Regions from separate parts of the Homo sapiens genome. Here all the other regions are linked to region 1. Evidence: fine-mapped expression QTL. A gene starts in region 1. Each other region holds a variant in brackets. All regions are shown on one strand. Distances are from middle to middle. Region 1 holds the start of NCS1 (neuronal calcium sensor 1). Region 2 overlaps NCS1 (neuronal calcium sensor 1). Region 3 overlaps NCS1 (neuronal calcium sensor 1).

What was found. PIP is the estimated chance that this variant, and not a neighbour inherited with it, causes the effect.
Region 2: its variant is fine-mapped to the expression of NCS1 in fibroblasts (GTEx, PIP above 0.99). The same link has a PIP of 0.9 or more in esophagus muscle and tibial artery.
Region 3: its variant is fine-mapped to the expression of NCS1 in tibial nerve (GTEx, PIP 0.96).

Annotation. Positions count from the first base shown.
Region 1 is chr9:130,164,269-130,175,211 of GRCh38, forward strand. It overlaps NCS1 (neuronal calcium sensor 1), which reads left to right and starts at 8,136. Exons shown (of 8, transcript NM_014286.4): 1 at 8,136-8,459. The coding sequence starts at 8,396. RefSeq lists silencers at 2,431-2,634, 8,113-8,202 and enhancers at 7,250-8,038, 9,500-10,410.
Region 2 is chr9:130,228,754-130,239,696 of GRCh38, forward strand. It overlaps NCS1 (neuronal calcium sensor 1), which reads left to right. Exons shown (of 8, transcript NM_014286.4): 8 at 4,237-8,550. Among named protein-coding and RNA genes, the nearest start is that of MIR12126, 7.2 kb to the right of the region's middle. RefSeq lists enhancers at 8,199-8,758, 10,916-10,943. The variant G/A (reference allele first, on the strand shown) is at 4,736.
Region 3 is chr9:130,194,362-130,203,360 of GRCh38, forward strand. NCS1 (neuronal calcium sensor 1) reads left to right here. Exons shown (of 8, transcript NM_014286.4): 2 at 6,597-6,621. Among named protein-coding and RNA genes, the nearest start is that of NCS1, 26 kb to the left of the region's middle. RefSeq lists enhancers at 2,859-3,360, 3,361-3,860. The variant A/C (reference allele first, on the strand shown) is at 3,379.

The DNA of each region.
Region 1 (10,943 bases):
TAAGCCTTGTAGAGGCTTTCCCCTGAGAGCAAAGAGAAGCTTCGCTGGGGGGATGGATGCGGAAGATTAGCAATAGAAAGTCTTACTCTGGCTGTGGTATGGGGATTTGAGAAGGAGCAAGAAAGATGCTGCAGAAATTGCTTTGATGGCTTGGAGAGAGAGGGTGGTGGCGGGATTCCACTGATTGTGGTGGAGGTGCAGAAAACTGTCCAGCCACCCAGCAGGCGGAGCTTGCAGTGAGCCAAGATCGTGCCACTGCACTCCAGCCTGGGCGACAGAGTGAGACGCCGTCTCAAAAGAAAAAAAAAAAAGAAAAGAAAGAAAGAAAAAAGAAAACTGTCCAGCCCTGAGGGATTTTTTTTTTTTTTTTTTTGAGATGGAGTTTCTACCTTGTTGCCCAGGCTAGAGTGCAATGGCGCGATCTCGGCTCCCCGCAACCTCTGCCTCCCTGGTTCAAGCGATTCTCCTGCCTCAGCCTCCCGAGTAGCTGGGATTACAGGCATGCGCCACCACGCACGGCTAATTTTGTATTTTTAGTAGAGATGGGGTTTCTCCATGTTGGTCAGGCTGGTCTCAAACTCCTGACCTCAGGTGATCCACCTGCCTCGGCCTCCCAAAGTGCTGGGATTACAGGCGTGAGTCACCGCGCCCGGCCGAGGGCTCTTTAAGAATTGAAACCAACGGACAAGGTGTGGTTGATTGCATACAGAGGATGGGATTCTGCAGAGCAGGAAGGGCCAGGAATGTTTCAGACTCTGGCTGGAGCCTTTGGTTGTCAGCGGACCATTTGTAAAGGAACAAGGATTCTTTTTGTGGGGAGTGGACCGCGGTGAGTTATGTTTAGGGCCTGTTGAGTTCGAGATGCTTACGTGACATGAGAATGGATACTCCCGGTAATGCACCTACCTACAGGTCCACAGACTAAGCCCTTGGAAGGGGGATAGGCCAGGGCTGTTCATCTGGCAGAGGAGGAAACCGGGGCTCAAGGATGCAGCAACTGAGCGGAGCATTTGATCCAGAGTTTGCCCAACCTGTGTTTAATATTTTCCCCATGGACTTCCTGGAAGAGCAACCGAGCAAGCTTCCCTAACCCTAACCCTAACCCTAAACCCAAGCCAAAACCTAACCCTAAGCCTAAGCCAAACCTTAACCCTAAACCTAACCCTAACCCTCACCCTCACCCTCAGAAGAGTGAGCTTATGAAACCGTAGCAGGGACCCTTTTTGCTGAAAGGCAAGGGGGAGGGCTAGAGGCTGGGTTAAAATGCAGATTGCCAAGCTATGCTCCAACCTCAGTGACATTCATCGTGTGTGGAGTGGAAGCTGGGGATCTGGGTCATGGACAGGCCCCCTGGGGGAGTCTTGGTGATTCTAGAAGGCCTCTACTTTGGGGTATTTGTGGATGAGTGAAAAAAATTGACAAAATACTTTTCTTATTCAAAAGAAATGTGTGAGCTGGATGTGGTGGCACACGCCTATAATCCCATCATTTTGGGAGGACAAGGTGGAGGGATTGCTTGAGCCCAGGAGTTCAAGACCAGCCTGGGCAACATAGTGAGACCCCATCTATACAAAAAATTTAAAAAATTAGCTGGGTGTGGTGGTGTGTGCCTGTAGTCCTGCTGCTAGGGAAGCTGAGGCAGGAAGATCACCTGAGCCTGGGAGGTCAAGGCTGCTGTGACCCATGATTGTGCCACTGCACTCCAGCCTCGGTGACAGAGTGAGACCCTGTCTCAAAAACAAACAAAAACCACAAAACAAAAACACAGAAGCAATGTGTTTAATTGTAGAAAACAATCTGTAGAAAATACAGATGAGCCCGGGCGCGGTGGCTCACACCTGTAATCCCAGCACTTTGGGAGGCCAAGGCGGGTGGATCACCTGAGGTCAGGAGTTTGAGACCAGCCTGGCCAACTTGGTGAAATCCCGTCTCTACTAAAAATACAAAAAAATTAGCCAGGCGTGGTGGCGCATGCCTGTAATCCCAGCTACTTGGGAGGCTGAGGCAGGAGAATCACTTGAACCCTGGAGGTGGAGGTTGCAGTGAGATGAGAGCTCACCATTGCACTCCAGCCTGGGCAACAGAGCGAGACTCCATCTCAAAGAAAAAATAAATAAAATAAAATAAAATAAAATAAAGTAAAATAAAATACAGATGAGATTCTGAAATTAGTGGTGATGGTTACACAATATAGCAAATATACTAAAATGGCTGAATGTGTGCTAATTTAAAATGATGAAATTTATGCGAATTATATCACAAGAAAAAAATGCAAGGAAAAATGCAGATGAGAGAAAAAATAAAAGTGACTCATAATCTACCTGTACTGACAACTGATAGGATTCCCTGGAAGCCTGTCCTTCAGACAGCTTCCTACATGGGTGCAGAGATTTATTTTCATTATTCTATACACAACGGTTTATAACCTGGGTTTTAAAAATCATTTAATTTGACTTATTTATTTATTTATTTATTTTGATACGGAGTCTCACTCTGTTGCCCCGGCTGGAGTGCAGTGGTGCAATCTTGGCTTACTGCAACCTCTGCCTTCCGGCTTCAAGCGATTCTCATGTCTCAGCCTCCCAAGTAGCTGGGACTACAGGCAGTGCACCAACATGCCCAGCTAATTTTTGTATTTTTAGTCGAGACAGGGTTTCACCATGTTGACCAGGCTGGTCTCGAACTCCTGACCTCAGGTGATCTGCGCAACTCAGCCTCTCAAAGTGCTGGGATTACAGGCGTGAGTCACCACGCCCGGCCTGGTTTTGTTTTTTCTGAACATAGACCTCAACATCCTCCTTGGGTGTTTCACAGACATCTCAGATCCATTGCTGAGATCATCACCCCCTCTCTGAACCTGGTCCTCGTCTGGTGACCCCATTTTGAGAAATGCATCCATCCCTCAGGGGCTCCTGGACACCACCAGGGGGCCACTCTGACGCCTCTGTCTCCTGTAGGGCTGCTCTTCCCAACCCAGAGATCCACGGTCATGCCTTCCTCTCTTGTCCCTCCAACCCACATCTAATCAATGGCCACTCAATTTCCCAAGTCCTCAATGGCATCTCTGCCTTCACCCTGCCTGCTCCAATCTGCACAGCAGCCAGAAGGATCCCTTAACCTGTGAATTGGCCATGACACCCCAACTGGAAGATGGGCTGCACGTTTTTCGTTTGTTTGGTTGTTTTTCTCTTTTTTTGAGACGGAGTTTCACTCTTGTCGCCCAGGCTGGAGTGCAGTGGCGCGATCTTGGCTCACTGCAACCTCTACCTCCCAGGTTCAAGCACTTCTCCTGCCTCAGCCTCCTGAGTAGCTGGGACTACAGGTGTGCGCCACCACGCCCGGCTAATTTTTGTATTTTTAGTAAAGATGGGGTTTCAGCATGTTGGCCAAGCTGTTCTCAAACTCCTGACCTCAGGTGATCTGCCAGCCTCGGCCTCCCAAAGTGCTGGGATTACAGGTATGAGCCACTGCGCTCAGCCTGGGTTGCACGTTTTTTTCACTTAAACATCAAAATCCTGTAGTGGAAAGACCTGGAACCTCTGCTTCTTGGATTGTGACCAGGGCATCAGAGAGCAGATCTGAGTCCTTCATGTGGTGGCTCAGGCTCAGCATTTTAAGCTGATGTGGGCAGGGACCTTTTCAGCTAAAAACCAGGTCAGGAAGAGGGATGGCTGGTCCCAAGGCCCAGCACTTTCCCACATGCCGTCCCCACATCACGGGGGTCCAAAACACTCCCCCCACCCTTCCCCAAGCAGTTCCCATGCTTCTCCCTCCTTCCTAAAACACATTCTTCCCTGGCTTCCAGCACTGCCTCCTGGTGGTCTTCCTACCTCCCCGTCAGCACCCCTGCTGTCTCCCTGGCCTGACCTTCTCAGCCTACACTCCCTCCCTCGGTGACCTCATCCTGTCTCAAGACTTTAAAGGGCATGTCTGCCAGGATGGCTCCCAGTGCATACCTGCAGCCTGGACCTGTCCCTGAACTCCAGACGCCTGTGCCACCTGCTTTCTCCCGTCACCACTTGGACATCTGGTAAGCATTTCACACCTCACCTGTCTGCAGTAAGATTCCAGCTCTTCCTGTCCAAACCTGTCCACTCCCCATCTTAGCAAATAGAAACCCCACTCTTCCATAAGCTCAGCTCAGAAAGCCCGGCCTTGTCCTTGAGTCCCCTCTCTCCGTCTCATACCTTCCAGCCCCCAAATGTCTCTCCTGCCTTCCAGCCCCCAAATGTCTCTCCTGCCTTCCAGCCCCAAATGTCTCTCCTGCCTCTAAGCATACTCCATCCACTCCTGCTTTCCCCTGAAGCCCCTGCCCAGGCTGACCCCCGGGCCCCAGGAAGTCTTCAGATGGGGATGGACTTGCTGGCCTGGAGGAGCTCATTCTGCAGAGGAGGTAGGATGGGCCTCAGCTGGAGGGATCTGGTGTAGACTTGGGAGCAGAATGTCTCCCAACCTTGAAGACCAACTCAGAGGAGACAGCAGTGAGGGAATCCTGCTCTCACTACCCTCAAAATGTCACCGAGTCTAGCCAGTTCTGTGTCCTCCAAGGCCACACTACACGTGGCCACCACCACCTCCTGGCTGATGATACAGTGACCTCTGGCAGTTCCCCATTCTTACCCATCTGTGCCTGGAGTCAGTTCTCCCTGCAGCAGCAGCTGAAGGGGCCGGCTAAGCACATCAGATCCCTTGAGTCGGGAGTCTGACCTTGCCTCCCCACTCTGCACCTCGCCCTTTAAAGCCCACCTTACTGTACCCCTGCAAGGCCACACACAAGGCTGTACGTGGGCCAGCTGGGCTCCACCTGGGCTCTGCCACGGGGCCTGGGCGATGCTCCCCCTCTGCTCTCAGTGAGGCTCCTTCTCTAGCCAACACCACACACCTCCGGCCCTCAGCCCTTCCCATTTTCCTTCCCGCCTCATTTTTCTTCTTTCACCTGTGAGATACATTCTACTCATGCAGCGTATTTATGGTTTCTTTTTTCTTTTCTTTTCCTTCCTTCCTTCCTTCCTTCCTTCCTTCCTTCCTTCCTTCCTTCCTTCTTTCCTTCTTTCTTTCTTTCTTTCAGACAAAGTCTTGCTCTGTCACTCAGGCTGGAATGCAGTGGTGCGATCTCAGCTCACCACAACCTCTGCCTCCCAGGTTCAAGTGATTCTCCTGTCTCAGCCTCCCAAGTAGCTGGGACTACAGGCGTGCACCACCATGCCCGGCTAATTTTTGTATTTTTAGTAGAGACGGGGTTTCATTATGTTGGCCAGGCTGGTCTTGAACTCCTGACCTCGTGATCCGCCCGCCTTGGCCTCCCAAAGTGCTGGGATTACAGGCATGAGCCACTGCGCCCCCGTGTTTCTGGTTTCTATGCTGCACTTATGCATGTTGTTTATTGTTTATAGCACTCTCCCCTCACGAAAGTGTAAGGTCCCTGATGGCAGGGATCTGGTCTATGTCCCCAGGGCACATAGTAGGTGCTTAGTAAACATGTCCCGAATGATGGGATGAATCTGTGAAGTCCCTGAGTTCCTTGGCAGGTGTTCCCATGTATGTTCCCCCACCCTCTCCATTCCTTGCATGGTGTTTGTTGCCAGTGTGATTTTGTGATCGCTGTGCAGCAGGTCGGGTCAGATCCGTGAGCTCCCATGTTGGTCTCAGTGCCCAGCACGGCACCTGGCACAGGGGCAGTGAGCAAGAAATACTCACAGGATGAGTACCTGGGTTTCTTGTGTGTGTGTGTGAATGCATGTGAGTGTGTGAGTGTGTGTGTGTGTGTGTTGAGACAGGGTCTCATCACCTAGGCTGGAGTACAGTGGTGCCAACAGGGCTTACTTCAGCCTCTACCTCCTAGGCTCAAACAATCCTCCTGCCTCAGCCTCCCGAGTAGCTGAGACTACAGGCATGTGCCACCATGCCCAGTTAATTTTTTTTTGTATTTTTTGTAGGAATGGGGTTTCACCATGTTGCCCAGGCTGGTCTTGAACTCCTGAGCTCGAGCCATCCACCTGCCTTGTCCTCCCAAAGTGCTGTGATTATAGGCATGAGCCACCATGCCTGGCCTGCCTTCCCTCCCTCCCTCCCTTCCTTCCCTCCTTCCTTCCTTCCTTTCTCTTTCTTTTTTTCTCTTCTCTTTTCATGTGTGTGTGTTTGTGTGTGTGTGTGTGTGTGAGAGAGAGAGAGAGAGAGAGAGTCAGGGTCTTTCTCTGTCACCCAGGCTGGAATGCAGTGGCACAATGACGGCTCACTGCAGCCTCGCCCTGCTGGGTTCAAGTGATCCTTCCACTTCAGCCACCCGAGTAACGGGGAGTTAGGCATGTGTCACCAAGCCCAGCTAACTTTTAAAAATTTTTGTAGAGATGAGGTCTCCCCTGTCAGGCTGGTCTTGAACTCCTAAGCTCAAGTAATCCTTCCACCTCAGCCTCTCAAAGTGCTGGGATTACCAGCATGAGCCACTGCACCCAGCCTGAGCACCTGGGTTTCTAAAGGGCTTTAACTACTACTGCTGTCATCCAGCCAGGCCCTGGTTCCCGTGCTGGCTCTCCCTCCTCCCAGGCAGGATGCTCAGCACAGTCTGGTCAACTGTTAGCCCCCCACTGTGGGCCCCTCACTGCTGTCCACTCTGAGTTGGTCCTCAAGGTTGGGACATTCTGCTCCCAGGTCTACACCAGATCCCTCCAACTGGGCCCACCTCCTCTGCAGAATGAGCTCCCCAAGCCAGCAAGTCCATCCCCATCTGAAGACTTCCTGGGGCCTGGGGCTCAGCCTGGGCAGGGGCTTCAGGGGAAAGCAGGAGTGGATGGAGTATGCTTAGAGGCAGGAGAGATATTTGGGAGCTGGAAGGCACTCGGCCCTGCTCAGGGTTCCTCTGAGCTTTCTGGACCCTCCGAGGTTAGAACACTGTGGAAAGAAGGGAGAAAGAGACCCCACTCCTGCCTCATCCCTGCTAGCCCCGGGGAGGGCTGCCTCATCCTCCCCGCTCTCTCCCCTACCCCAGGGCCCCAGCACCGGGTGTCATTCTTTCCTCCGTCCTTCGCTCATTCACAGAGATTTGCTGGGTAACACCTCAGGCGGCCTTCTGGGTTATGGAGATGCCTCTGCCCTCTGGGAGGGTGTTCTCCCATGGAAGAGACAAACAGGATGCAGAAAACATAGGTGACGTTTGTGATGGATGTGAAGGAGAGAAACTAAAGCCGAAAAGGATAGGAGAGTTCTCAAGATATGATGATATGTTGGATGAGGTGGACCGGGAAGGCCATGCTGGACCTACCACCTGAACCACACCCCCCTACGCGAATCCACTGGCCTCTGTCCATTCAGGTGGAGCCTGTCACCCCAGCCTCGGCTCAGAGAAACAGCTCTGAGCAGCTCTGACCTGTCACTCCAGCAGCTCTGACCCATCACTCTCTGCTGAAGTCCTTTCATGGGCGCTGGTGGGCAGGGGCCCAGCTCCTCGGCGAGGGGCCTCTCCTGGCCTGCCCCGTGGGCCCTGCCCTTCTCCCAGGTCCCCTGTGCCTGCAGCCGTGCGCAAGCCCGCAAGCCGGGGAACTCTCCCTCGGGCATGCAGGCCTCCCCGCCTCTCCAGGTTGCCTGGGCCAGAACGCTTCTCCATCCACCTCCCTTCCTGACCCTGGGTTTGGAGGTCTCCTGCCCCCAGGCCGAGAGTAGGTGCTCCCACCGCTACCTGCCGCATCCCGCACAGCCCCCTGCCCGCCCTGCGAGGGCTGGGGCACTCCTGTCCCGTGGGCCGCCGTGTCCCCGGCACCCCATGAATCCGTGTCGAATGAATGAATGTCTCCGGGCCGGGACCTGGCCTCATTCACATCCGATCTTCCGGGCCCTCCCCGCCGCGGCGGGGGCCGGAGCGCCAGGGCTGGATTCGGGGAGGGGGTGGCGGGGGTGGCTGCCCCGCCCTGGGGCCGCGTTGAGCCGAGGGGACGCCCCTCCGGCTGGCTGGCGAGGCCGGGGTCCAGCTGGCGGAGGCCGCGGCCAGGCGGGTGCGGGGCGGGAGGTGGCGCCGGGCGCTGAGTGGCGGCTCCGGGTCCACCCCTGGCGCGCGGGTGCGGGCGGGAGGGGGGAGGCGGGAGGCGGGGAGCGCAGGGGCGGCGGCAGGCGGGAGGCAGCAGCGAGCATGTGCCGCGGAGCCCAGTAACCAGGGACGACCGCGGCCACACCGCGCCGGCGCCGGCGCCCAGCCCAGGCAGCCCCGCGCCGCGGCGCCCGGACCGCCCGGGCCTGCCCAGCGGCCGCCCCACGCCCCGGGCGCCCCGGCGCCGACAGCCGCGCAGCGCAGCGCGGGCGCCGCAGACAAAGGCGCGGCCCCGGCCCGGCCCGCCCGGCCCAGCCGCTCCTGCTGGGCGCCCCAACCGGGTCCGGCCCGGGGGGGCGGGGGCCGCGGCCGCCGAGGATGGGGAAATCCAACAGCAAGTTGAAGCCCGAAGTTGTGGAGGAGCTGACCAGGAAGACCTACTGTGAGTGCTCCCAGCCCCCAGCCCGCGCCCCGCGGTCACCCCCACACCCACCGCCCCCGCCCCCGCCCCCCGGACCCGCGCGCTACCCGCTCCGCGCTGCCGCCTCCGCTCCGTCCTCCCCGCCCGGCCTCCAATGTGGACCCCTCGGAGGTTCCCGGGCCGCGCCCCTGCCCCCCGCCCGGCCCCATTGTTCTGGCACCCCCAGCCCGGGGAGTGCGCGCCGGTCGGCGTGCGCGGCGCCACCCCTAGGTCCGGAGGGGCAGCCCCAGCCCCCTGGCGGCCCCCTCTCCGCAGAGCTGTCCCAACGGGCAGGGGCTGTTGCCAGGGTGGGGCGGTGGTCCCGGGAGGGGGCGCCCGGCTGCGCGGAGCCGACTGGCACGAGCGCGCGGGGCTGGTGATTCATGCATCACGATGCCGCCGCCGCCGCTGCTGCGAGATTGGCCTGTCGCCCCCTCCCTGGCCCCGTTCGTGTGGGGGGGGGGGTGGCGAGACTTGGCACAGCGCTCGTCGTGCGGTGACGGCGGTGAAGGGTCCCCGGCACCCTGTGGGTTGCAGCACTTACAGGCTGGATTCTCCCTGGCCCCATCTCTGTCTGCCACACCGGGAAGTGGGTTTCTACAGCCCGGGTCATCTGGGCCGCGTGTGATCATTAGCTGTCGCGGGCTGCCCGGAGGAGGATGGCCTGTCCTTTCTGGGCGTCTCCAGATCAGCCTCAGTGTGTCTCCCTCCACTTGCCTAACTTCACAACTCTGCAGTCCCCTTGCAGTCCTAGTTTCTCCATACCAGGCTTCCCCCTTCCCTGCAGCCTCTCCGGAGGTGCCCTGGCATACCAGGGGTTAATGGTAATGGGTCCAGACCACCCAGGGGATTGCCAGAGGGAAGGCTTCAGCATCGGGGTCTGGAAGGACCTCTGCCTGGGTGTTTGACTTGGAAGGGGACAGTGGTTCTGGGCTTGGGTTGGAATTCAGAACCCATCCCCGGGCAGCTGCGTGGGCCCAGGCCCTCTGCACCACCCCTGGAGGCAGCAGCTTGACCGCCAGCCCCATGTGTTGATGGAGGCTGGGGAGGCAGCTCCTGGTGGTGCATTGCACAACCTCTGCTCCCCGCTTCCCCCCACTCCATCGGCCTTCTGGGCACGTCTGCAGGTCTGTCCAAGCCCACGCTTCAGCTCCATGCCCCTCACCCCTCATGCTTGGAACAAAGGGGGCTTTCCTGAGCGGGTGCTAGTCTGCTGCGAGGTGCTGGCCCTTCTCCTGTGGAATCCTGCAGCATGGAGCTCACATCCCAAGAGCTGCTACCTGGAAGGGGTGAAGCCCCTGGGCACAGGGGCTGTTCTCACCCTCTCTCCAAGGTGGGCAGGTGGGTGGCCCATTCCAGTCTGGCTGCTGTTTTGTGAGATTCGCTGGGGACTCCTTCAAGCTAAGTCCAGATGTGGCCCACAGCCGCCAGCAGGTGGACTTCCTGGGTCCCTGTGCCGGGGGAGGGTGAGGACACCGTGGGCTCCATCAGGAGTGGTGGGCATGGGCTGCACGGGATGCCTCCATCATGGTGGGACAGGGGAGTGAAGCCAGGTTTCCTGCTCATCGAGCATGTCACGTGCCAAGCTCTTGGCATCATTAGCACCTCGACTCTGCCACAACTGCTCTACCAGGCTGGGTGCTGCTACGATCTCCATTTACAGATGGGGAAACTAAGGCTCAGAGGGGCAAAGTGGCATTCCCATGATCCCACAGCTAGTGACCAGGCAGTGCCAGGACTTGAACTCCGGTCTGTCCTGCTCCAAGGCTAGTGAGAGACTTCAGAGCTCGTGCCAAGAGCTCTTCTGGGCCAGGCACAGTGGCTCACGCCTGTAATCCCAGCACTTTGGGAGGCCGAGGCGGGTGGACCAGCCTGACCAACGTGGAGAAACCCCCATCTCTACTAAAAATACAAAATTAGCTGGGCATGGTGGCACATGCCTGTAATCCCAGCTACTCGGGAGGCTGAGGCAGGAGAATCGCTTGAACCTGGGAGGCGGAGGTTGCGGTGAGGTGAGATTGCTCCAAGAGGGAAACTCTGTCTCCAAAAAAAAAAAAAAAAAGCTCTGCTGGGTGTCTTTTTCTGGCTTTTGCTAGAAGCCCATGATGGTGGATTCTAAATGGGAAGGGCCTGGGGTGATAGTCCTGTCCGGCCCCCTCCTCCGGGCAGATCTGTCAACTTTAAGAGAAGTTGAGTCAACAAAGCTTTGTTAGGAACTGGCCCTTGTGGTGCTGGGCTGGGCTATTTTTAAAGGCCTTTGGAGACGTGGAACAGTTTTGGGCAGAGAGAGAGTTGGCCTGGGTACTTTTCCTCTGTCGAAGCCCTTATTAGGGGTGGGCCGTTGGAGGTGGCGGTGGGTTCATTGGCCTCCTGTCTGCCTCCCGCGCTGACGTCAGCTCCCTAGTGCAGGCCCTTGTGTGTGGAGCTCACAGCTGTGTTCCCCCCATGTGTTGGCCTTTAGTAGGT
Region 2 (10,943 bases), 64 kb after region 1:
CCTCCTGGGTTCAAACAATTCTCCTGCCTCAGCTTCCCGAGTAGCTGGGACTATAGGCACCTGCCACCATGGCGCCTGGCTAATTTTTCCATTTTTAGTAAAGATGGGGTTTCACCATCTTGGCTAGGCTGGTCTCGAACTCCTGACCTCAGGTGATCCACCCACCTCAGCCTCCCAAAGTGCTGGAACTGCAGGCGTGAGCCACCATGCCTGGCCAGGCCTACACTGTTTTGAAGCGTCTGTTATTATTATTATTATTTTTCACAAGAAATCCTTTTTCATTGAAGAGACATTGAAAATATGTTTAATGAGAAAACCTCAATTAAAAAGTTTATTTTAAAAAAAACCCCTTATGTATGACTCAGATATAATCACAGTGAACATTTTAGTGTCCAGAGTGATTTTAAAAGAATTGAACACTTACAAAACTTAACACTCAGTAAACTGAGTCACACAGAAATTATATAATTAAAACCAATTTATAAAGGAACTATCACTGTTATTAATATTTCTTTTTTTTTTTTTTTCCAAGATGGAGTCTCCCAGGCTGGAGTGCAGTGGCGTGATCTTAGCTCACTGCAACCTCTGCCTCCTGGGTTCAGACAATTCTCATGCCTCAGCCTCCCAAGTAGCTGGGATTACAGGTGCTTGCCACCACGCCCGGCTAATTTTTGTACTTTTAGTAGAGATGGGGTTTCAGCATGTTGGACAGGCTGGTCTCGAACTCCTGACCTTGTGATCCACCCACCTCAGCCTCTCAAAGTGCTGGGATTACAGGTGTGGGCCATCGCGCCTGGCCAATATTTCCATCATAGAAATGTTTGACGTGTACCTTGACATGTCCCATGGTGAATGCTGATCCGTTGTCTAATTTTTCACAGTCCTCTTTTGCAAATCACCATGTCATATTATTTCCATGACAAGCTTGTCAAAGTGACAAGAGCCCTCGCATGATATGATCCCCCTTTCTATTAGCTCTGCTGGGAAATGGCCTTCTTTCTTCTATAGGGCTGTTCCTTGTGCCTACGCGGTAGTGATTATATCCAATTTGTGTTCTATCATTTTAATGATTTATTTGCCTCCTCAGGTTCCTGATAGCTCATAATTCCTAGATCACTTGCAGTGATGTAAGTCATTGACTTATTCAGAAACTGAGATGAGGCTTATTTTCCACATCATTAAATGTTGAGCCATCATTTTTCATAGCTGCATAATGCTCCATCACATGGCTGGGCCATAATTTAACCAGTTCCACAGTGTTGGACACTCAGGTTGTTGGGAATTTGGGGAAGGGATTAAAAAGTTATCTATTATGGGCCAGGCGCACTGGCTCATGCCAGTAACCCCAGCACTTTGGGAGGCTGAGGCAAGTGGATCACTTGAGGTTAGGAGTTCAAGACCAGCCTGGGCAACATGGTGAAACCCCGTCTCTACAAAAAATACAAAAATCAGCCAGGTGTGGTGGCGGGCACCTGTAATCCCAGCTATTTGGGAGGCCGAGGCAGGAGAATTGCTTGAACCTGGGAGGCGGAGGTTGCAGTGAGCCAAAACCACTCCACTGCACTCCAGCCTGGGTGACAGAGTGAGACTCTGTCTGAAAAACAAAACAAAACAAATTATCTGTTATGGAAACATTCATACACAGTGGCAGAGAGAATAGTGTAATGCTGAGTGGGCGCCTGTGGTCACTCACACCTATCATCCCAGTGCTTTGGGAGGCCGAAGTGGGAGGACTGCTTTAGGCCAGAAGTTTGAGTCCAGCCTAGGCAACATAGAGAGACTCTGTCTCTACAAAAAATATGAAAATTAGCCAGGTGTGGTGGCACATGCCTGTAGTCCCAGCTACTCAGGAAGCTGAGGCAGGAGGATCCCTTGAGCCCAGGAGTTAAAGGCTACAGTGAACTAGGATTGTACCACTACACTCCTGCCTAGGTGACAGTGTAAGACTCTGTCTCTTTAAAAAAAAAAAAAAGTGTAATGTTTTGTACTCATCACTCAGCTTCCGAATCCCCAGTTCCCTGCCAATCTTGTACCATCTGTGCCCTCCCCCCCCACCCCCACTCTTGTGATTTTGAAGCAAATTCAAGACATCATCATACTTAATCCATTTCAAAATGTATTTCTAAAAGATAAAGATTCTTTGAAAAATTCATAAAGCAAAAGCAATCAATAATTCCTTAATATCCTCTGATCTCTAGTTGCTATTCTAGTTTCCTGTTATCTTACTCTTTTTTTTTTAACTTTGTTTACTGAAATCAGAATCAGAATAAAGTCTACCCATTGTAATAGGTTGATAGGTCTCTTAAATTTATTTAGACCATGTGCAGTGGCTGACGCCTGTAATCCCAGCACTTTGGGAGGTCGAGCTGTGTGGATCACTTGAGCCAAAGAGTTCAAGACCAGCCTGGGCAACATGGTGAAACCCTGTCTCTACCAAAAATACAAAAATTAGCTGGGTGTGGTGGCGGGTGCCTGTAGTCCCACCTACTTAGGGGTGCTGAGGCAGGAGGATTGCTTGAACCAGGGAGGGTGAGGCTGCAGTAAGCTGAGATTGCACCACCGCACTCCAGCCTGGGTGATAAAGTGAGATTTTATCTCAAAAAAAAAAAACTTTAATTTTGTTTATTTTTTATGTATTTATTTTTTTGAGGTGGAGTCTCACTCTTTTTGCCCAGGCTGGAGTGCAATGACGTGATCTTGGCTCACTGCAACCTCTGCCTCCTGGATTCAAGCGATTCTCCTGCCTCAGTCTCCTGAGTAGCTGGGATTACAGGCACACACCACCACGCCCAGCTAATTTTTGTATTTTTAGTAGAGATGGGGTTTCACCATGTTGGCCAGGCTAGTCTCGAACTCTTGAACTCAGGTGATCCGCGTACCTTGGCTTCCTAAAGGGTTGGGATTACAGACATGAGCCACCTCACCTGGCCTGAGTATGGATTTTTGGTTCTTTGGGTATATACCTAGGAGTGGAGTTGCTGGGTCATATGGTTAACTCTATGTTTAACTTTTTGAGGAACCACCAAACTGATCTCCAAACTAGTGACAGCATTTTGCATTCCCACCAGCAAAGGACAGAGGTTCCAGTTTCCCACATCCTTGCCAACGCTTGTTATTTTCCATGAAAAAAAAAAAAAAGGTAGCCATCCTAGTGGGTGTGAAGTGGTTGCCTCACTGTGGTTTTTTGTTGTTGTTGTGGTTTTTGTTTTTTGAGACAGGGTCCCACTCTGTCTCCCAGGCTGGAGTGCAGTGATGCAATCTCGGCTCACTGCAACCTCTGCCTCCCAGGTTCAAGTCATTCTCCTGTCTGAGCCTCCCAAGCAGCTGGAATTATAGGTGTGCGCAGCCACGTCCGGCTAATTTTTGTATTTTTGGTAGAGACCGGGTTTCACTGTGTTGGCCAAGCTGGTCTTGAACTCCTGGCCTCAAGCGATCCTCCTGCCTTGGCCTCCCAAAGTGCTAGATTTACAGGTTTGACCCACCACTCCTGGCCCTCCCTGTGGCTTTGATGTGTGTTTCCCTAATGACTAGGGATGTTGGGCATCTTTTCATGTGTTTATCGACTGTTCTATGTGTTGTTTTTAATGGTTTGTAAACTGTTTTATCCTGTGGGTGTGTCCTAATGTATCCCACCACTCCTCTGATACTGGACACTTAGATTGTTTTCTCTGCTTCCATTTTTGTTTTCTGTTTTCTGCTATTACAGATGGTGCAGTGGTAAACATTTATTTATTAAGGATAAATATAGGCTGGGCACGGTGGCTCACGCCTGTAATCCCAGCACTTTGGGAGGCCGAGGCGGGTCTATCATGAGGTCAGGAGTTCGAGACCAGCCTGGCCAAGATGGTGAAACCCTGTCTCTACTAAAAAATGCAAAAAGAAATTAGCCAGGCATGGTGGCGGGCGCCTGTAATCCCAGCTACTTGGGAGGCTGAGGCAGGAGAATCGCTTGAACCCAAGAGGTGGAGGTTGCAGTGAGCCGAGATTATGCCACTGCACTGCAGCCCAGGTGACAGAGCAAGACTCCAACTCAAAAAAAAGCAAACAAAAAAAAACCAAAAAACCCAAAGGGTGCCTCAGAGGTTATGCACATTTTTAGGACTTCTGACATAGAATGCCAGCTTGCCATCTATCGACCTTCCTGCCAGCTCTCTGTGCCTATCCTCCGTGGCCAGACCTTAACCCCTATCCGCTGTGGCTGGATCTTAACCCATCTTGCCTCCTTGTGTCTTCCAGATGCCTGGGAACCACTCACCTCCTTCTGTGCCATGAGGCCACCTCAGCCCTGACACCAACCCCGTGCGTCCACCCAGCCTTCTTCCGCATCCACACACAGCCGGCTGCCCTTGACCCGGGAGGCCCCGGCTCTCCTCTCCCCTGTCCTGCACCCATCCCCCGCCTGAAGCCACCGGCTCCAATTGCCAGCAACCTCTGCTTGTCCGGAAAACGACAACACGAAATGGAAAAGGCTACAGCCCTCTGCATAAACCAAGGACTTGGCTGCCTCGCAGGCAGCCTCCGTTCCTCCCGCTCTCTTGCGCGTGTGCTTTTGTTTTTTATTTTGAACAGACGTTTTAAAAGAAAAAAAAACAACTACCTTCTGTCCTAGAAGACACAGACTGACAGATGGGGTGAAGGCCTGGGGACCTCAGAGAACTCTGCCTTGCCCTCGTCCCTCGTCCTTCGGCAGCCGGAGAGGCTGTGGGTGGGCCGAGGGTGTCTAGGGGTTCTGCCT[G/A]GTCAACGTTATTTGTCGTCCCATCTTTTGGCAGCAAAACCACCTGCGTGGCTAGGATGATTAATTATGAGGATGATGATTTTTTTTGTGATAACAGTATTGTGCTTTTTGTGGGGAAAGTGAGGTTTTTTTTTATATACATATATAATTGATATCTTTAATTTATTGGTTGTTAACTGTTGCTGCTGCCTGGTGTGTCCTCAGCTCCCAGGGCTGCGGGCCCACCGTTTACATGTGCACGCCCTGACCCACCTGCCCACGCCGACTTGGGAGGATGGTGGCCTGCAGCGGCCAAGAAGCCAAAAAAAATTTTTTTTTTTTCAGATACTGTGCTTGATTTTTGGAGAGGGGAGAGGTGGAAATTCCTAAATGGCTAATGCACTGTTCCCTCCAGCCCGAATGCCTCCTGCCAAACCCCTTTTCCCTGCTGCCTCTGTCCCCGCATCCTTGTTCTCCCCTGGGTCCGTAACATTTTTTCCGAGGATGAACAGGGGACATCTTTAGGTTTCTCAACTCTTGCTTTGGTGTTTGCCGCAGCATGGAAAACAGGGCGCCTAAGGCTGGGAGCTGGAAGAAGGGGCATTGGGTACCCAGGCAGAGTCAGGAGAGGTGGTCTTTGAAGTAAGTTAGCAGAAATCAAGGGGACCCCCGCCTCCTTGGGCTGGGGAGGGGATTTCAAGATAGTTCATGACTCTCTCCCGCTCTGCCTTCCCTCCTTCCTATCTGCTTTTTCCAGTAAACTGCATGGTGTCCTTCCCTGGCCTTCTCTTGGCTCAAAGGCTGGGAGGGAGGGAAGGAGAGAAGAGTTCCAGGCAATCCCATCAATATAGTCCCTACACCTGGGGCTGCGGCCCACATGTCTTCACGGAGGCTTCCAGCGGTGCCTGCCACTGAGGCAGGTGCGGCCCCAGGACCATCACCAGGAATGCGAGGCCACCCTGGACCAGAGGTAGGAGCCCAAGGTCCGGCCCTTGCTCTTTGATTGTGGGCAGCCTCCTGCCCTCTCTGGGTCTCAGTTGCCCCATCTGCAGAGCGAGGAGGCCCGGGCTGGTTGGTCTTGAAGGCCCTTTTCCATGCCGACATCATGTCACTCTAGGCCTGGGGTTCAGTTTCCTGTGGCTGGTGATGCTGTGGTTAAGTTTGCTTGACCCCAGCAGCCCGAGGGACTGTCTGAGTCACAGCACAGCCCCTATTGCGTGGCTGCTGGTGTGTGGGGTCAGTTCCAGCAGATGAATGTGTCATGTGGCACACCTTGTCCCTTCCCGCAGCATTTCCTGGTTCCCCCCAGACCCTTGAGCGCTCTTTGGGACCCAGAAGGAGTCCTTGCACAGGGAAGGCTTGAGGTGAGAAGCCGCTTCCCAGACTGTCAGGGCCAGGCCTGGGTCTAGAATTCTTGCTGCTGCTTTGCAGAGTCAACAGCCCATCAGCCCATGTTTTAGAGGGGACACTTTGGTCCTCGGTTCCCACCCTCAGCAAGCAGGCCTCCAGCCCGAGGAAGGCCTCTGCCGTAGTGACGTTGCCGTGTGGGGCTGCGTGGCTGTTCCCCTTGGCTGGAGCATTCAGCCAACCCCAGCGTCCCCCCTGAGGCGTTCATTGGCAGCCCCCTAGGACTGCACGCTGGCCCCACGGTAACCCCCCCTCCCCCACCAACATCCTGCAGGGATGGGGTCAGTGGTTCCACCTTCACAGGCCACTTTGAAGGGTGGATTCTTTGAGGCCCCTGCCAGTCGGCTCCCTGCTCAGCTGCTGGCCCGGGCGACCTGGGACTCAGCACCAACGGCTGAAGTTTCTCAGCTGGGCTCTGACCTGGGGTCTGGGGCAGGGAACGAACATGGTGGCTTTGGGCTGAGAGGATGAGGGAGGTCTTTCCCAGGTCAAATTACTTTCCTTTGGCCTCTGCCTGAGGCTCGATTTGCCTCTCTGGTCCAATGGGACTGACACTGTTGTACAACCTGACCTGTGGCTGAGGGTGTCTGGGCTTAAGCATGTGGACCCCTTCGGTGTGTCCGGCCTTCCTCCATCGTCCTGCCCTTTGGCCTTTTGGTTTGAAGCCACAGGTGTGGCTTCTGGCCTTAGCAGATGGTATGCTTGCGGACCGCAGCCCAGCATGCCGGTGGGCCCACAGCCCGAGCCAGCCCAGAGCTGCCGGAAGGGCCGCCCTTCCCGGCCCTGGCGGGGTGCTGGACACTGGCCATTTTCACTAGAGTTTGCCTGGCAGGGACCGATCTCTGCCCCCTCCTCTCCCCAGGCCTCTGGCTGCAGTGATGCCGCAGAATCCTGAGCCAGGTGCCTCCTGAGCAGCCCGTGCGCCTCTCCACAGCGGCGTTTGCCACCCAATGCGGCTCGCTTCAGATGCTCTGATGCAGAGGGCACGCCCATAGTCCCTCTGCAGAGCCTCGCACTGGGGCCAGGGCAGGCACCAGCCCCAGGCGGCCAGTCGGCCACGGCCTGTCCTCTTCCTCGTAGCGTCTGCTCCTCACTTTGTGTTGATGGTGACTTAGGAGAATGTTCCGATTTTCCATGATCTAAGCAGGCCACGTTTAAAATAACATCAAGGCAAGCGTACGTGTCACCCTCTGTACTGACATCTCTTCCCCTGAAATGCTTTTCAGTTTGACAGCCCGTTTCCTAGACAAGTGCACCTGGGGTTTCAGGAACTTTGTGTTTTTTCGGAGGGGGTTGGTGGGGAGGTCGGGATGCCTGGGATCCCTTCCTGGAGAGGCAGGCTGTCTCTGGAAAAAGCCTCCATTGCCCACCCGCCAGGCGGAAAGTCACCCTGTTCCCAGCGCGGTTTCAGCATTTAATTTTAAGGGAGCTAAGGAAGCGCGGCGCGCCCCCTGGTGGTGGTAAGCCGCCAACGCACCTGGGGGCTGCAACCCCACCGGACGGGTGGTCCGGAGGGAGGCTGGAGCGGGGAGGCGAGGAGGGGGCTGTGAGTCCTCAGAGGCCCTGGGCCACCACATTTCTGGCAGCGTTTCCCAGACACCCCTCTGCTAGGCCATCCCTGGATAGCAAGTGAATTAACTTAAGGGCACTGTGATGGGAAGCCTTGCCCCCCTCTTTTTTTTTTTTTTTTAATATCTGCGGAATAAACCCAATGGTTAATTTTTGAATGAATAAAAGGCTTTTGTTGAATAAACAGCTGGTCCCATCTTCTGTCTTGGCATCTTAGCATCCAGGCTCAGGCTCTGCCCCTTCTCCAGGATGGGGTAGCCCCGAGTCGCCCTCCCCAGTCTGCACATTCCCTGTTGTCCCTGTTCCTGCAGTGGCTCCCGGCCCCAGGGAGGCCCACCTCACTCCCAGCCTGACTCGGTGGCTGGCTTCCTTCAGGACTTTGCGCAAGTCAGTTCTGCTCATTGGGTCTCAATTTCCCCATCCCTTGGATGGGAGCAAGAGTCTCTGCTGGGCCTGCCTCGCAGGGGCCTGGTGAGACCCAAATGTGAGTGTCATCATCAAAGCCCCTCACAGAAGTGGAGGACGGTGCCCAAGAGTAGCGGTTTGGACTGCTGCTGCCTCCCACCCGGAGCCTGCCACTTGGGGGAGAAATTGGTATAATGCTTGCAAAAACAAACAAACAAAAGGCAATGTCTTCTGGTTGTGGTTATTTCCTTTCCTGCTTGCCTCCCCAGCCCCCTTTGAGTCTCTTTTTGGGGTGCCGTCCTGTCTGAACCTGCCGGTGTGTGTCTCTGGGGCCAGGGTCAGGGCGAGGCCCAGGGGTGGACAGGGGCCGTGTAGCATGCCCCAGCCTCCCCAAGCTCCTGCTGTATGTCGTCCATGTCACGCCAATTAAACACGCTTCCTGGACTTGTCCTCGCCTCCCTGTGTGGGCCTGTTGCTTTGTCTGTTTACATTCTTCTCCGTTTCGTTTTAGGTTTCTTCCCTTTGTGACACCCTTTCTCTGGCTTTGGGTGTTGTCTTCCCAGTTTCCTGAAGAGAAAGAATGTGTAGGCCGGGTGCAGTGGCTCATGCCTATAATCCCAGCACTTTGGGAGGCCGAGTTGGGCGGATCACCTGAGGTCTGGAGTTCGAGACCAGCCTGGCCAACATGGTGAAACCCCGTCTCTACTAAAATACAAAAATTAGCTGGGTGTGGTGGCAGGCGCCTGTAATCCCACCTACATGGGAGCCTGAGGCAGGAGAATCACTTGAACCCGGGAGGCGGCGATTGGAGTGAGCTGAGACCACACCATGGCACTCCAGCCTGGGTGACAAGAGCGAGACTCCATCTCAAAAAAAAAAAAAAAAAAAAGAGAGAGAAAGAATGTGCAAAGTGAGAACCTTGAGTATACTTTTAAACCAGAAAAATCTGCAGGAGTGTTTCTGCGAGGCCTAGAGTTGAGTGGTGTGAGGCCCCGCCCACTGCCTCACCCACGACATCCCCTGACCTGCCTGTTTCATCTGGAGAGGGCGGCTGCTGCTTTAAAAATGTCTGAAAACCATTGGCCTAGATCAGTGGCTCTCAAAGTCAAGTGTGTCTCAGAATCACCTGGATTGGAGGCTGCTTCAAACCCAGCTTGCCAGCCCAGCCGCCGAGTTTCTGATTAGGAGGGTCTGGGCAGGGGCCTGGGAATCTGAGTTCCTAACAAGTTCCTGGGCTGCGCTGCTGCTGCGGGTCTGTGAATCACACTTTGAGGACCCCTGGGAGGTGTGTGCGCTGCAGCATGTCCGGTTGGGTCCCTACCTCCATTGGCTCAGGGATTCAGGCAAATGATTCATTCACCTCATCTGACTTTTGCACCTGTGATGGGCCAGGCGCAGGGGGCCTAGAGATTGGTTGCTGACCACATGGAGGGTTGCGTCGGGAGGGAAGGTGGGGAGATGAGTAGCTCTTGTGCAAGCTCCCAGCAGGCACCCCGAGAGGTGGCAGTCTGTGTGGCTGCCCTCCCCCGAGTCACCCTTGGCCTGGAGCCTGGGATAGAGGAGAGCCCTCCTCTTCCCCCTCTGGTCAAGTAACCCCGTGTTTGCTCAGTATGCATGGGCCCTGCCATGTTGGGGAGAGGGGGATCAGAGGAGGTGGTGGTTTTCACTTTCGTAGCTTGTTAAAGGAACACGAATTCAGAGAGCAACAAAAGCCAGCGCGGACTCAGGAACATAACTGTCAGTTAGAATTCATTGCTCTTGGCCAAAAGCTCTTGAAAGACGCATGAAGCGTGTAGATTGATAAGATCAAGCAGCCCATGTTAGAATGAACCACCACCTGCAAACACAGGCCACGTTTCAGACATGTTTCAGAGTGAAAGGAATCATCAGATCGCCACCACCTTCCAGGCAAAGCTGAAGGCCCAATGTGACTTCCGCTTTGGGGTTGAAGCAACCGTTGAGAAGTGGATGCAGCGATGTCACCCTCTGTGGCCACGCTGGGCATCCAGCATTGTGCGTTGCTCTGGCGGGTCCTAGAGTGAAGATGCCAGAACTCCCCAGACCCTCAAGAGGGTTCCAAAGGCAGCATGGAAAGGCAGTGTGGGACGGTGATTGGGGCCACAGGTTGTGGAATCTGACCTGGTTCCCAGCCAGGCTCTACCACTTGACGCTGGGCATGTGTTCTGACAGACAGGGTTTTCTGGTAAAAAAGTGGACCCTCGGCCGGGCGCGGTGGCTCACGCCTGTAATCCCAGCACTTTGGGAGGCCGAGTCAGGCGGATCATGAGGTCAGAAGATTGAGACCATCCTGGCTAACATGGTGAAAGCCCGTCTCTACTAAAACTACAAAAAATTAGCCAGGCGTGGTGGCAGGTGCCTGTGGGAGGCTGAGGCAGGAGAATGCCGTGAACCCGGGAGGCGGAGCTTGCAGTGAGCCGAGATCGCGCCACTGAACTCCAGCCTGGCAACAGAGCGAGACTCCGAGACTCCGTCTCAAAACAAACAGACAAAAACCCCATGGACCCTCAATGAGAGGCAGGCGATGGCTCGACAGCCCCTGCCCCACAACCTCGCCAGAGGTGGAATGTTGCAATGAAGGCAGGTATTAGATCAAATTCTGCCAGAAGTCCAGATATTCACTGTCAAGTAAGTACAAAGACAGGCAGGCACCTGTACCTGTCCATCCAGGGGGTGGGGGCCCCAGGACCCCAGGAGCCCTGCCCCTGAGCACAGTCCTGAAGCACCAGGCTGCTTGCTGCTCTTCCCTTGTGGTGCACAGTGCTGAGCTCTGAAAATCTTTGTAGCCAAGCATGTATCTTCACCACATTACACTTCTATGAAAAGGGAC
Region 3 (8,999 bases), 29 kb after region 1:
TGCTTCCTGGCTGTGGGGTACGAGCCTGGAGTCTGTGGGCGTGGGGGTGCGGCGAAGGCTAGGACCCACTCTCTGCTCTGAGACTGCAGCTGCCCTCCCCTTCTGCAGCTCTGGCTCTCTGGGGGTCAGTGAAGGGGAGTAGAGTGGATGCCCAGCCCCCCCTCTCCCAGGGCCCTGTGTCGGCTCTGATTTCTCCATCCACTCCTCAACAACCTTGACAATGGCTCTGCCTGGTAGGAGTTTATACCCCATCCTACAGGTGAGGACTTGGAGGTTCAGAGGGGTTAAGAAACTTGTTTGGAATCACCCAGGCTTCAAGTGGCCCTGACAGGATGGCACCCCAGAACTTTCCCCTGTCTGGCCCCATGGAGAGCATGGCCCATTGCCAGTTTTAAATCCTGGTTTTGGTACGAGCCTGGGCCTGCAGGCCTGGAGGCAGAGTGTGATGGAGAGAGTTCGTTTTAAAAATTGGCCAAAGCCAGATGAAATTGTGAAGGTCAATGCATGAGAAACACGTTTGAGGATGTGTTCTAAACCCAGCCCAGTGGCTGGATGACAAAGGAGGAATCAGCAGGTGTTTTTCTCTGTCCCCTGTGTGCAGGGTGCTGAGCCAGGCTCTGAGGGTGATGCTAGGATGGGCCAGGAGAAGTGTCCTGGCCTCTGCAGGCTTAGTGTCCAGCTAGGAAAATGAGGGGAAGAAGTGCTTCTGTCTCGCACTTGCTGGGTGCTGGACACTGGGCCGAGCACCAGTCCCTCCTCTTCCTGCTAGATGCCTGAGTCCCATTTTACAGATGAGCAAACCAAGGCTCAGAGATGCGGGGTCACTCATCCAAGACCACAGATCAGAGGGAGCCCTGGCCTGAAGTGCTTGCTGGGCTGGCCAAGGCCCTCTCTGGACCGCTGTACTTCACCACTGCTCCCCCAAGCCCAGCCTGTGCCCCCTTGGTCAGACCCCCGTTGGCCCTCTGTCGTGGAACCCATGGGAAGACAGACCTCATGTGAAGGGGGCTTCCCAAGGGGCCAAGGCAGGGTCGGGAGGGCCTCCTAGAAGAGGGCCATCCCAGCTGGGCTTTGTTTTTTTTTTTTTTGAGACAGTCTCTGTCACCCAGGCTGGAGTACAGTGGTGATCTCAGCTCACTACAACCTCTGCCTCCTGGGTTCCAGCAATTCTCATGCTTCAGCCTCCGTGGTAGCTGGGATTATAGGCACGCGCCACCACACCCGGCTAATTTTTGTATTTTTAGTAGAGACAGGGTTTCACCATGTTGGCCAGGCTGGTCTCGAACTCCTGGCCTCGAGTAATCCGCCCACCTTGCCCTCCCAAAGTGTTGGGATTACGGGCATGAGCCACCGCGCTCGGGCGCAGCTAGGCTTTGAAAGATGGATGGGGTTTCCCTGGGTGGAACGGGTGAGGTGAGGAAGTGTTCCTGGCAGAGCACAAAGGCCTGGAGGCTGGAACGGTCAGAGGAACTCCAGTGGGGTCAGGATGCGGGCCAGTGACCCAGGGAACAAGCTGTGCAAGGACTGCCTGCGTTCCTACCCTGCCCTGAACCCTGAGCCCTGAACCCAGAGCCCAGAGCCCAGACCCACCGAGGGAGGCAGAGGCGGAGGCCCTGTTAATTTCACATGCAGTTGGAGGCTCTGGGAGGAGGGGGAAAATGGGCCGGGCTGGGAACCAGAGCCTGGGAAGGTCACTCTGGCATCTGGGTGGAGGCTGAGGCAAAGGGAAGCTGAACCCCCAAATTGTCCCCCATCTCCCTCCCTCCCAGTGCCTGTCTTGGCGGGAACTGCTGGGGGCACAGGACCTTGGGCAGGACCCCCCAGCCCTCCTGGCATTGTGCAGTGGGGAGGGGAGGCAGGCACAGTGGTTATGGGGTGAAGAGGACAAACATTTCCCTCAACTTTTTATTTTGAAAAATCAAGAGGAACATTGATGTGGTGGTGCAGGGATGCCTCTGTGTCCTCGAGTCCCCGGCTCTGCTGCATCTGTCCCCTCTCTTTCTACATACGTGAGTGTGTATATTTCTAAACCATGTCACAAGAGGCTGCAGGCGTCTTGACCCTCACCCCTGAATAGCTCAGAGCATATCTCCAAAGCTGGGCGCGGCGTCTCACGCCTGTAACCCCAGCACTTTGGGAGGCCGAGGCGGATGGAACACTTGAGGTCAGGAGTTCGGGACCAGCCTGGCCAGCATGGTGAAACCCCGTCTCTACCAAAAATACGAAAATTAGCCAGGCGTGGTAGCAGGTGCCTGTAATCTTGGCTACTTGGGAGGCTGAGGCAGGAGAATTGCTTGAACCCTGGAGGCGGAGGTTGCAGTGAGCCCAGATCAACCATTGCACTCTAGCCCCAGCCTGGGTGACAGAGGGAGACTCCTCAAAAAAAAAGAAAAAGAAAAAGGGCATTAGCCTCAGTGCTGTTACCACCCCCACCTCATCCCCATGGCAGCACCTAATTACCAGTCCACAGTGCAGTGGCTTCCCAGCTGGCCCAGCGACAGCCATGATAACAGTTTTTTCCTGCTGATCTGGACCCGATCCAGGCATCTTGAGTTACATTTGGTTGCCTCGTCTGTTTAGACTCTTTTTTTCTGGAACAATCCTCCAACTTGCTTTGCCTTTCCTGGCCCTGACTTGAAGTGTCCTGGTCAGTGGTCTTGTAGAATGTCCCACAGCCCGGATTTGTCTGATTATGTCCTTGTGGTTAGACTCAGGTTAATTATTTTTGGCGGGAGACCTTCACGGATAACGTGCCCTTCCACTGCATCAAATTAAGGGGTACATGATATTGGGCTATTTCACGATCGAAGGCAGGGCAGGTTTGATCAAGGACGGTGGCTTTTTTTTGAATTTGTTATATTTTTTATTGTGTATTAGAAAAGATATGACCAGCACAGTCACTGGTAACTTTATGGATATTATTGCTTAGGCTGAAGCTAGATTAAGCAGGTAAGTAAAAGCAAATTGAGATGATTTCAAGAAAAATCCTGAGTGAATCACTGGACACTGGACAGAGAAAGATCTCGAAGGTGATCTTGGAAGAGTTGAGCTTCTGGGAACCCAGACACAATGGTTGAGAACACAGGCCTTGGTGATGGGCAAACCCAGGCTGAGGATGGGCACGTTCCTCTGGTCGCCTCTCCACCCCGGCTCAGCTTCCTCTCCAGGTTGGGGTGGTAGCTGCTCAGCAGGGGGCTGGGGTTTGGACAAAGGACAGCCTGACCCGTGCCAGAGCTCCCTGGCTGGCGGGAGGGCTGGGGGCAGGTGGCCAGGACCCCAGAGATGTGGGTCCTGCCTGCTGTCCTTCAAGACCCTCTGTGGCTGGGCGTGGTGGCTCACGCCTGTAATCTCAGCACTTTGGGAGGCCAAGGCAGACGT[A/C]TCACTTGAGATGAGGAGCTTGAGACCAGCCTGGCCAACATGTGAAACCCTGTCTCTACCTAAAAATACAAAAATTAGCTGGCCGTGGTGGTGTATGCCTGTAGTTCCAGCTACTTGGGAGGCTGAGGCACACGAGGATCACTTGAACCCGGGAGGTGGAGGTTGCAGTGAGCCAAGATAGTGCCACTGCACTCCAGCCTGGGTGACAGAGCAAGACTTTGTCTCCAGAAAAAAAAAAAAAAAAAGGCCCTCCAAGGCCCCAGGCAGTGAAGCAGTTAGAATTGCTGGGCCCTGGCTGGGTGCCAGGGGATACCTGCCAGCCTCAACTGTTTCCTAAAGGTCAATTTGCTGCTTAAAGCATGGGCAGGACTTATCTCCCCCACCCTAGCTCCGGTTCCCTGGGGCTCGGCTGCCTGCTGATCACCCAGGGTTCTGTGGGGGGACCTTTCCAATGGGGGGAGCCCTAGTCATATGCCCTTCTCCCACCTCCCTGCTGCATCCTTGGAGTGTAGTTGGGGGTGAGGAAGGACGCAGAGACTGAGGCAGAGCCCTGGGGGAAGGCTGCTGGGAGACATGGGTGGGGGGTGTCAAGGGAGAGTGGGACTTCGGAGCTGGGGGTCCAGGGAAGCCCCGCTCTGGCACTGTGAGGCCCGCCTGAGACAGTGGCCATGCCACCCAGTTCCTGCTGTTTGTGTCGAATGCTGCCACCCCTTGCCAAGGTCATACAAGGTCATGCAGACTCAAGGAGTTGTATCCAATTGGGCCTCCATCCTGATCTCTAGGGGCACCGTCCCAGCTCTGCTGTTTCCTGGCAAAGGGACCTCAGGTGATCTCAGACAAATAAGCAGACCCATTGGAACTTCAATTCCTCATTGGGAAAACGGGGTCACACCTCCCTGTGGGGTTTTTGTGAAGCTGAGGAGCGGCAAGCACTTCAGTTTTCCCAACAATCCCATTTCACAGATGAGAAAACTGAGGCTCAGTCAGGGGAAGCAATTTGCCCAAGGACACACAGTGCCCTGTGGGGCCGGATTTGAACCCAGGCGGTCTGGTCTGGCTTTAGCACCTGTGGCCCTGAGCTCCTGGCGGTACTGTGATGGGTCGCCTGTGTCTCCAGGTTTGGGCTTTCAGCATCCGCCCCACAGCCCCAGCTGCCATCACAGCTGCCATCACAGGCAGCCAGCCTGGATCAGACCAAGGACACCTTCCCTCTCCACCCCCATGCCGAATCCTGAACCCGTTCCTGCCCCATACCCTTTGCCAAAACTTTATCTCAGAAAATTGCTTTCTTTGACTCCAGGCCCGGTGTTTCTGGGTAACTGGCATCTCCCGCTGTTGCCTTCTCTTTCTCTCTTTCTCTTTTTTTTTTTTTGAGACACAGCCTCACTCTGTCACCCAGGCTGGAGTGCAATGGTGTGATCTTGGCTCACTGCAACCTCCGCCTCCCGGGTTCAAGCGATTCTCCTGCCTCAGCCTCTAGAGTAGCTGGGACTACAGGAGCGTGCCACCATGCCTGGCTAATTTTTTGTATTTTTAGTAGAGATGGGGTTTCACCGCTTTAACCAGGATGGTCTCGATCTCCTGACCTTGTGATCTGCCTGCCTCGGCCTCCCAAAGTGCTGGGATTACAGGCGTGAGCCACCGTGCCTGACCTGCCTCCTCTCTTTTTATCTGAGGCCTGCTTGCAGACAGGTCTCTTCCTCCATCTCTGATTTGGGCTTGTGGGAGGAGAGTGCTGACCAGCACGGGGATGGAGGCATCTAGCCTGCCCAGGAATCTGGCTGCCTGGTTCTGAGCCACAGACCTAAGGTCAGGCCCTTGCCTTGCCACTTCCTGATCTCTTTGTGCCTCAGTTTCCACATTTGGAGCTGGGGCAGAGTTGTGCCATCCTCCCTCCATGCTGTCATAAGAGCCGTTGAGCTAAAGCACAGAGGCCCGCCCTGGGCGCAGATTCGGGCTTGCGGCAGGCTCTTGGTATTTGGCAGCTGTTGCGAGCTTGCTTTGAGTGGTTTTTGAAAAGTGGCTTCCTCAAGTCTGGTCAGGCACAAACAATTCAGAGACACCTCTTTGGGCTTCCTTCCCACTTCCCTGGGAATAGATTCTAGTTCCTTTACTCATCTGACCTCCACCTGACACCCCTTTCCTGTCTGTTCATGTGTTCATTCATTCATTCATTCATTCATTCATTCCACAAACCAGTATTGAGCACATTTGAGGGCCCTACGCCGTACCCTTTGCCAAAACTTTCTCTTGGAAAATTCCATTCTTTGACGCCAGGCCTGGCCTTTCCAGGTGTCTGACATCCCCAGGGATCCAGTAGCTTCCATGCCTTTATGAGTGAGTCCCCACAACAGGTCTGTGTGGCAGGTGCTGATAATATGATGCCCACTTTATGGATGAGGCGCCCAAGGCAGGGAGTGCAGGAGGAGCCGTCCCGCGCTCACACAGGCAGGGAGCAAGGGTGGCCTTGGTGGTGGTTTGGTGTTCTTGTTCGGTGACTTTAGAGAGAACATTGATTTGGTTCCAACTTGAAACGATTCTGTACTTTTCAGAAAAAGCATTTTTGTTTGTTTCATGGCTCAGTAAAGAATGGGTATGTGGGCTTGGCTCCAGGCTCAGCCGCTCTCTGTAGCCTCTTTCAGCTTTTGCTTCACGGCTCTGTTCATGTCTTGCCAGTGAAAGAGCCCGGGCTGACCACAGAGAGGGGCTGCAGGGACAGGCTGACAGGGAGGGTGGTCCACCCTTCTGCTGAGAGCTGCCCCTTTTCAGCCTAGCTCCCCCCACCCCCCCACATAGGTGGGGCAGCCGAGTGCCTGGGGAAGCCAGGGCCTTCCCTGACATCCCGTCCCCAGGGATTGAGAGATGGCAACGAGTAAGTCTTAGATGTTGGCCTGGGAGCAAGGGCTGTGGGAGAAGCAAACCCTTGAGTGCCACAGGGCGTTCCTGGGGGCTCTCCCAGCAGCGGCAGTGGCAGTGGCAGGTAGCACTTGGGCACCGGGAAGGGGTGGGGCCAGTGTCCCCTGCTGGGGTGGTGGGTACAGAGCCCCTGGCTAGGACTGCTCACCAAGGGAGCATTTTCTCATCCAGAGCAGGCCGTTGCCCGGGGACATGGCCGTGGGGAGGGGAGGGCTGGAGGGGAGGCCCCCCAGCGAATGTCTGCCCATCTCCCGGGACACCTTCCCTGAGCTAAAAGCCTACTTTTCTGCTTTCTCTTGCAGTTACCGAGAAGGAGGTCCAGCAGTGGTGAGTAGCTGCTTTTTCTCAAACCGTAGAGGGGCTGCGGCTGTGGGCTTTGTGGGCTGTGGGCTGATGGGGACAGCAGTCCAGCTGCTCAGGATGGGGGCATGTGGAGGGGCCCCTGAGCGTGGGGTCCAGACAGCCTTTGTTCAGTGGCCTTTGTCCTTGCGGGACTGACGTGGTTTCAGTGGAACTGGGTTGGGGGTGGCGCTGGGGTGTTTGTTGGTGGTCCTTGCTTTGAGTTGCATCTTTAGGGACCACCAAGGCCTGAAGGGTTGATTCCAGGCCCTGTTCACCAAAGAGAAGGGTTTGGATAAGAAAGTCCTTCTATGACCTTGAGAGGTCCTTTCCCCTCGCTGGGGCTCCGTCACCCCTTCTATAGAATGATCGATTCGATTGGATCAGGGATGGCAAATGGGTTTGCTCTTGGATGCCAGCTCTATTCAATCTGTCGTAGCTGCCTGGAGGGCCGTGATAAGGATTCCGAGGCCGTACGTCATGGAGCAAATGGAAAAGCGGCAGTGAGGGATAAGTGGGGCCTGTAATGGATGAGCAGTGCCAGGGCTGGGCCTGGGGGAGGAGGGCGGTGTATTGTCCGTCTTTGTGGAATGTGGAGCAGACAGGAGGCTCACCATGTAAGGTGGCTGAGCTGTAGGGGTGGCACGTAGGGACATGAGGCAATGAGCTTGGAGATTTTCCAGTCAAGTCTGGCAGGGCCGGGCACCCCCCAGGAGCCTCCAGGGCCACTCCCTACACCTCCCTGCCTCAAGTCCAAGCTGCAGATGGGGCAGGGCTATGCTGGCCCGCCTGGCTCTGCTGAGCCCTTGCTGGGAGGTGCCCCATCCTGGGATTGAGTTTCCGCCCTCACTTTCCACTTCTGCACTTCCCCAGGTGAGTGCCCTAGAAACACCCTCCTTCTAGATCTTCACCCATGTGGCTCTGCTTCCTGGAATGCCCGCCTTCCTTCCTGGGCCATCTGAACTCTGCCCCTCCCAAGGCTCAGCCCAAGTCGCCTCCACCATGAAACCTCCCTAGATTCCCCATCCGTACATGTTCTCCCTGCCTTCACACACGCCAGCCAGAGGGGTCTTTGCTGAACAAAAACCTGACCATGCCAGGCGTCTGCCACCCTCCCCAGACCTCAGGGTGAAGTCCTCACCCTTGACATGGTTATGTGCTTACGAGGCCTGGTTCAGTCTGGCCCTGTTGACCCCTGCAGTCTGGCGTCCTCTGCCTGTTGGCCTTTGCCCTTTACCCTCTGGCCAGCCTGAACTGCTGTTTGTTCCTTGAACTCACCTTTGTCTCCGGGGCTTCCTGATGTTTGCCCAGGCTGCTCCCTCTGCCTGCTGGGCTGTTACCTCCTCGCCCCTCCCCCCCACCCCCTGAAACCCCCCAGGCCTCTGTCAGAGTTCCCACTGCCCTGTGCCTCCCTGGGACAGCCGATGACTTACTGGGCAGCAGGTAAGCATTTTGTCCCTCTCTGCATCCTGTCGGCACTCTGAGGGCTGGCTAGCTTGGCCTTGTCCATGTTGTGTCCCTAGGGCCTGGCCACAGTGGGTGCTTGGCCCCCAACAGGCATCGTCCTTGGTGCTTCAAATCCATGTTTTTTTTTTTTTTTTGAGTTGGAGTCTCTCGCTCTGCCACCCAGGCTAGAGTGCAGTGGCATGATCTCAGCTCACTGCAACCTCCGCCTCCCAGAGTCAAGCGATTCTCTTGTCTCTGCCTCCCGAGTAGCTGGGACTACAGGTGTGTGCCACCATGCCCCACTAATTTTTATATTTTTAGTAGAGACGGGGTTTCACCATCTTGGCCAGGCTGGTCTCGAGCTCCTGACCTCAAGTGATCCACCCACCTCGGCCTCCCAAAGTGCTGGGATTACAGGAGTGAGCCACTGCACGTGGCCTGCCATTGACTTCTGGGAGCAGTACTAGGGGTTAACAGAGCTCATCATTCCACATGGCAGATGAGGAAACTGAGGTTCAGAGAAAGTCCAGTTGGGAGGTGGCAGGGTTGGGATGAACCATAGGCATCGAGACTCCAGAAGCTGAGCTCTTGCCTCCAGGGTAAATATGTGTGTGTGTGTGTGTGTGTGTGTGTGTGTGTGTATACACATACATATATATGTGTGTGTGTGTGCGTGTGTATGTATATATATATATATTTTTTTTTTTTTTTCTTGAGACAGAGTCTCTCTGCTCTGTTGCTCAGGCTGGAGTACAGTGGTGCCATCTCAGCTCAATTACAGTGATTCCCCTGCCTCAGCCTCTCAAGTAGCTGGAACTACAGACATCCACCTGATGCCTGGCTAATTTTTCTATTTGTAGAGACGGGGTTTTGCCATGTTGGCCAGGCTGGTCTTGAACTCCTGGGCTCAAGCCTTGGCC